2 linked regions of the Homo sapiens genome follow. The protein of the gene in region 1 purifies or fractionates together with the protein of each later gene. This does not show direct contact. Each region holds a gene or a part of one and is shown on either strand. Other genes may lie near its edges.

Region 1 (3,652 bases):
CACTTCATGAATGAGGGTATCATATATTTAACATTTAAAACATTATGACACAATAAATACCTTTTAAAGGTATGTGGCAAAATAAAAATATACTCTGATTCGAGCTGGTGTTTGGAAAAAATAAAAATATACATTAAACAATGAAGTCTCGGCTGGGCACAGTGGCTCACACCTGTAATCTCAGCACTTTGCGAGGCCGAGGTGGGTGGATCACTTGAGGTCAGGAGTTCGAGACCAGCCTGGCCAACATGGTGAAACCCCATCTCTACTAAAAATACAAAAAAATTAGCCGAGCCTTGTGGTTGCACACCTGTAATCCCAGCTACACAGGAAGCTGAGGCAGGAGAATCGCTTGTACCCAGGAAGTGGAGGTTGCAGTGAGCTGAGACCAGCCTGGGTGACAACAGTGAAACTCTATCTCGAAAAAAAAAAAAAAAACACACACACAATGAAGTCTCTTCTTTCCTTTATGATGGAGAAATGATCATATTCATTCTATTTTTTTCTTTTTACCATCTTAACTCCCGAGGAAAAACGTTTTATATTTTTATTATCAATGTTATAAATCCAATTCTAAGACTTTGCACACAAAAAATACCAAGGGAGATAGTATAATATCTCAAGCTTGTATTTTCCTGAAATTATTGGGAAAAAGTAGAACTAGACTTAAGTAGATAACAGGAAAATACAGTATTATGGTGTTTGTATACAAAAAATAATCCAAAACAGATAAAAACACACGCTCAAGATGGCACCCACATTATTCCAGAATAAAGTTATTTACATATATACAAACGATTATATGACTAAATAAATGAACATTTTCCTAAAACATGCATATTGTGAAGCCTTTTATAATTAAACCTATAAAATCAAACTAAATTGCATATTATCAACTGTCATGATTACAGCTTTCTGCACACCAGGAGAGTTAACATTTTAACATCTGTTCTACAAAACTGAAGATAAAATGTCATCAAACTCAGCATTTCTCTAGAAAATTTTATATACCTCAGCAACCTGTCATACTGCCTGTCGTCAAATAAATGGACTCTAAAATGTACTTATTCTTTTCAGAAAAAAATTTTTTTTGTAGAGAGGGGGGTCTTGCTATGTTGTCCAGGCTGGTCTTGAACTCCTGGCCTCAAGTGATCCTCTGGCCTCAGCCTCCCAAAGCACTGGGATTACAGTTGTCAACCACCACGCCAGGTCTCTTTTCTAAAACTTTAATTTCCACTATTGCTCTTTTGAAACCATTTTAATCAAGTCACATTTCTTAGAAAAAATTCACTCAGGGTTCTGAAGGAATTAGTTATTTTCTACAAGCAACTCTGTCATGAGTGATAGAGTTGTAGCTCTCTTAGAAGTTTTTTTCCTCTTTCAAAGAGAATGAGAAATATGCAGAGATTTCCTTACTGACTCACTAAATGTAAAGATTAAGAGGACATAATAAAATTTTGGACTACAGTAGCATATAGGTTTTCAGTTTATTTACTACTAACTAGCTATAACTTAGACAAGTCATTTAACATGCTGTGCTTTAGTTTCATCTTTGAAACAAAGAGATTCGAACAGAAATCTCTTAAGCTTCCTTCCAACTCTTACATGGTATGATTCTGTGCTTCTGCAGGAATTCTTAATTGATAAACTGAATCTTCCATAAATCAAGAGAACTGATGTGTACTAAAATAGCACAGCTGAACTAAACCTTTCCTTGTTAGGAAAAAAACACAAAGACCATGTTCAAAGCTTAACTTTCCAAACCTTACTAGACCCATTCCCTCTTCAGCCAACCAAAGAATAGCCCATAGAGTTAAAACCAAATATTTTAATTATATAAATTACTTTTAAAGTATAATGTAAACCCATTAAAATATATTAACTCTATGCCAGTTTTCCTACACTCTAATTTACAGTATTTTCATTTTATCTACATTCAAGATAATATGTACAGTTAAGGAAGGGGCTATTTAATATTCTTGCACTTCTAAACACTAGTAAAAGTTAAATAAAACACAGACGAAGAACAGAATATTAACAATTATCATATTGTGCCAAATTTTTAATGAAAGTATGCTGAGTACTATTTGTGGGCTAAAGAAACAAGGCAAAGGTAAAAAAGGAAATCCTGCTAACAAGTGCTGATGATCAAATGAATTTAGTTGTGTTTTTCCATAACTTAAAAAAGACAGGAGGGAGAGGATTTTAGCAGAAATCTATTTAGGTAATACTGAATCATGACATTCCAGCAGCTTTTATGAAAAACTAATGTATAAAGTAGTATTTTGGTACTAGTGCAGTGGAAATTGGTTTTTCTTTGTCTAACTATGGACAGCAAGTGAGGCACTTAACTTTAAAATAGAAAAATAGGGTATATTTAAGAAGACATTCAAAATCATTCAGAAAAGATAATTAGCACTATTGAAAAAAAGTTAGAAATTCCATTTTTATTTAACATGCATTCAATGTTACACATGTTTCACTAAGGAAAATCCTTCTGAAAGTAAGATTACTCTTTTATTTATAAGAAACAGAAAATATTTCCTTTTCAAGGGATTCTGGATTTCTAAGAATAAAATCCAAGTCGTCTCAACCTGAGTGCTACGTATTTATAAACTGAGAAAAATACGTCTTACCATACAGGAAAAATGTTATGACTATCAACAAATACCATGAGCTGGGAGCAGTGGCTCTTGCTTATAATCCCAGATACTCGGGAGGCTGAAGTGGGAGATCACTTGAGCCAGGAGTTCGAGGTTATAGTGAACTATGATCATGGCACCGCACCAACAGAGCCAGCCTCCATCTCTTTAAAAAACAATAACAACAAATGCCACGTACCATGTGATCCTCAACTTTATCCTTGAAGGATCAGATGCTTTTATTTTACATAACTTCAGAGAAGGGCACCTAATGACTACAACAGAATAATAGATATTTAGCACCTAAATTTAGAGATGCTTAAGTATTGCCATAGTTTTAAATAGCTGTATGTCTGTAAGTTGAGGGAAACCAAATACATGTTGTTAAACGATATTATCCTTAATTACAAATGCATCTACCTACAATATTCAAACACAATCTTATTTCTCCCTGAAGTTGCAGACATATATATATATATATATATCCCTTTTAACAAGTAAAGTGAGGTTTATTATTTCTTCACCATCATTAAATTGTCTTCCAAATGTGGAACTTTTTCAGGTTAGACAAAAAGTAGTTCCTAAAAAGTCATTCATATTCGACCAGTAGTATTACTTTAAATGTTCTTCACTATGGGACAGAGGTCAAAATTGAAGTGAATGGCCACGGACCTTCTGCTGAAATATATAAGTAAAAATAAGCAGGAACAGAGGAGATGAACATACATTAATTTCTGACAACATGTTGGCACAAAAATGCTTACCTATAGGGTGAAAAAGCACTTAATGAGAGGATAAATATTTGCCATGAGAGTATTTCAAGTGAATGGAGACTAGTGTTTCCTTTCTTCATATCTAAGTGAAATATTCTTGTGTTGCCTAAGTAAACTTGACTTTAATCCTGGATAGAACACTTTACTTCATATGTTAAAACTGATGCATGACATTAACTGAAGTTTTCCATGAGACAATTTAATCATCCCCATTGAGAAATCTTATAATCCTACCTT
Region 2 (3,652 bases), on another chromosome or scaffold:
CCCAAAGCCCATTGGAGGACCCAGTGCCGCTGTCCCCTCTGGCCACCCTCCACCCCCGACCAGGAGCTCACGGCTCCCAAGCGGCCGTCCACCCGTACTGGCCCCACGTCCTCTCAGCCTCCCTGGCCTGCACGACCTCCCCAGCCCCCGCCCTTTGGGCTGCACAGAGCCCAACTGGGGTCCCCTGAGATCCCTGGCCCTGCTCTGTCTACCTGACATTTCCTTAGAGAGAGAGAGAAAGTTCTCTCTGGTTTTTTTTTTTCTTTTTTTTTAGCCAGGCGCGGTGGTGGGGGCCTGTAATCCCAGCTACTGTGGAGGCTGAGGCAGGAGAATCGCTTGAACGCTGGAGGCGGAGGTTGCAGTGAGCTGAGATCGTGCCATTGCACTCCAGCCTGGGCAACAAGAGAAACCCCGTCTCAAAAAAAAATTATTTTACTTTTTTTTTAGAGACAGGGTCTCACTCTGTCACTCAGGCTGGAGTGCAGTGGCGCCATCTCCACTCACTGCAGCCTCAACCTCCCGGGCTCAGGCAATCTTCCTGCTTTGGTCCCCCAAGTAGTTGAGATTCCAGACATGCACCAGCGTGCTTGGCTAATTTATGAAATATTTTTTTTTAGTAGAGATGAGGTTTCACCATGTTGGCCAGGCTGGTCTCAAACTCCTGACCTCTGGTGATCTGCCTGTCTCAGCCTCCCAAAATGCTGGGATTACAGGCATGAACCACAGTGCCCGGCCTGAATCTTTTTTTAATTTTTTGTAGAAACGGGGTCTCTCTATGTTGCCTAGGCTGGTCTAGAACTCCGGGCCTCAAGCAATCCTCCCTACTTGGCCTCCCAAAGTGCTGGGGTTACAGGCGTGAGCCACCGCACCCTGCCAATAATTTTTTGAAGTATCACGGAAAAGTCCAAAACACATCTTTTTTTTTCAGGTGGAGTCTCGCTCTGTCATGCACGCTGGAGTGCAGTGGTGCGATCTCGGCTCACTGCAACCTCCACCTCCCAGGTTCATGCAATTCTCCTGCCTCAGCCTCCCAAGTAGCTGGAATTACAGGTGCCCGCCACCACGCCCGGCTCTTTTTTGTGTTTTTAGTAGAGATAGGATTTCGCCATGTTGGCCAGGCTGGTCTGGAACGCCTGAGCTCAGGTGATCTGCCCGCCTCGGCCTCCCAAAGTGCCGGGATTACAGGCGTGAGCAACCACGCCCGGCCCAAAACACATTTTACTACCAGGCAGGAGCCTGCTGCCTCCCGGGCCCGCCCCCGGCCCCGCCTCCGCCTCCAGCCTCGGTCCGCCCCACCCCGGCCCCGCCTCCAGCCAGGCCTGGCCCCGCCCCCGCCTCGTACCGGCCCCGCCCACCTGCGTGAGCAGCATGAAGGCGTTGTCGGCTCGCAGGTTCTTCTTCAGGAACTCCACGCAATGGGCCTCGAGCGCTGGCACCGCGTACTTCTTGGCGGTGTATAGCGTGGTCATCACCGTCTCCGGGCCAATCTGCACCTCGTCCGAGTAGAGAAACCTGCAGAAGCAACGCGGGTGGCCGTGAGGTGGGACCGCCATGCCCGCCCCCAGGGGAGAGCGTCAGGGGACCACTCAGACCGTTAGACTCGGCCACCGGCCCTTGAGCTGGCAGGACCCAAACACCCACATCAGGTTCCCCGAGGAACCTTCCAGAATTAGCCCCTGTCCGTTGCCCTCTGACATAGGGACACGACTTGGCAAGGTGGTCACCCATGAAAACGAGCAAGAGGCTGAACCCATCTACACAGCACACACCCGGAAGCGTCTATATGGCCTGTCTTGTTCTGCCCGGGATGCCCCAGGAGAGGGCACTGGGAGCTGGGTGTCTCCTTCTTGGGCACCTTTTCCATGAGGAACTGTTGGTTCCCCACCTCGGGCACCACCGAAAACCTCAACCACTTCTGGGTGGATCATAGAACCCAACACGCTAATTAGGATCATGGATAATCATGGACGCTATTACCACCTGCCAGCGAGGGGCCCACACGACACTGAATACAGATCAGAAGTTGGGCCGATCAAAAATAGAAGCACAGGCTGGGCCTGGTGGTTCACGCCTGTAACCCCAGCACTTTGGGAGGCTGAGGCGGGCAGATCGCCTGAGGTCAAGAAGTGCCAGACCAGCCTGGCCAACATGGTGAAACCCCGTCTCTACTAAAAATACAAAAATTAGCTGGGCGTGGTGGTGGGCGCCTGTAGTCCCAGCTACTTGGGAGGCTGAGGCAAGAGAATCGCTTGAACCTGGGAGGCAGATGTTGCAGTGAGCTGAGATCTCGCCACTGCACTCCAGCCTGGAGACAGAGCGAGAATCCGTCTCAAAAAAAAAAAAAAAAAAAAAAAAAAAAAAAAGCAGCACAGGCCGGCCTGGTGGTTCACGCCTGTAATCCCAGCACTTTGAGAGGCCGAGGCGGGCAGATCACTTGAGGCCAGGAGTTAGAGACTAGCCTGGCCGACATGGCAAAATCCCCCTCTACTAAAAATACAAAAATTAGCCAGGTGTGGTGGCAGACACCTGTAATCCCAGCTACCTGGGAGGCTGAGGCACAAGAATCGCTTGAACCCAGGAGGCGGAGGTTGCAGTGAGCCAAGATCGTATCACTGCACTGCAGCCTGGGAGACAGAGTGAGACTCCCTCTCAAAAAAAAAATAAAAAATAAAAAAATGTCTCCAGCCTGGAGCAGTGGCTCACATCTGTAATCCCAGCACGTTGGGAGGCAGAGGCGAGAGGATTGCCTGAGACCAGGAGTTGGAAACCAGTGTGGGCATGGTGAGATCCTGTCTCTAAACACATTTTTTTTTCAGCTGGGCACAGTGGCTCAGGCCTGTAATCCCAGCACTTTGGGAGGCTGAGGCAGGCGGATCATGAGATCAGGAGATCGAGACCATCCTGGCCAACATGATGAAACCGGGTCTCTACTAAAAATACAAAAATTAGCCAGGCGTGGTGGCGTGTGCCTGTAGTCCCAGGTACTCAGGAGGCTGATGCAGGAGAATCACTTGAACCCGGGAGGCAGAGGTTGCAGTGAGCCAGGATCGTGCCACTGCACTCCAGCCATGGTGGCAGAGCGCTACTCCATCTCAAAAAATGAAAAAATAAAAAAATATTTTTTTTCTCTCCCAGCCTGTGGGTGGCATTTCCACTCTGCCGGTATTGTCCTTTGAGGTATACATTTTTAACATTTTCCCTAAGTCCAATGTCTTTGTTTATTCTTTTCTTGGCTGTGTCTTTGGTGTCATATCCAAGTAATCATGGTCAAACCCAATGTCATGAAGATTTGATTCTGGTTTTTCTTTTTTTGTTGTTGTTGAGACAGAGTCTCGCTCTGTCGCCCAAGCTGGAGTGCAGTGGCGCAGTCTTGGTTTACTAAAACCTCTGCCTCCCAGGTTCAAGCGATTCTCCTGCCTCAGCTTCCTGAGTAGCTGGGGTTACAGGTGCCTGCTACCATGCCCAGCTAATTTTTGTATGTTTGTAGAGATGGGGTTTTGCCTTGTTGCCCAGGCTGGTCTCCAACTCCTGACCTCAGGTGATCCACCCACCTCAGCCTCCCAAAGTGCTGGGATTACAGGTGTGAGCCACCGCGCCTAGCCATACTTTGGATTCTTTTTTTTTTTTTTTTTTTTGAGAGGGAGTCTTGCTC

Evidence for each region.
Region 2: the proteins of CEP97 (region 1) and BTBD2 purify together in Homo sapiens (affinity purification with western blotting, with the first as the bait; one study listed by BioGRID). This does not show direct contact.

Annotation. Positions count from the first base shown.
Region 1 is NC_000003.12:101,766,114-101,769,765, reverse strand, and holds part of CEP97 (centrosomal protein of 97 kDa), read right to left. Parts: 3' UTR 1-3,652. UniProt on the Homo sapiens protein: Acts as a key negative regulator of ciliogenesis in collaboration with CCP110 by capping the mother centriole thereby preventing cilia formation. Required for recruitment of CCP110 to the centrosome.
Region 2 is NC_000019.10:1,991,665-1,995,316, forward strand, and holds part of BTBD2 (BTB/POZ domain-containing protein 2), read right to left. Parts: intron 1,513-3,652; coding exon 1,356-1,512; intron 393-1,355; coding exon of another isoform or gene 213-392; intron 1-212.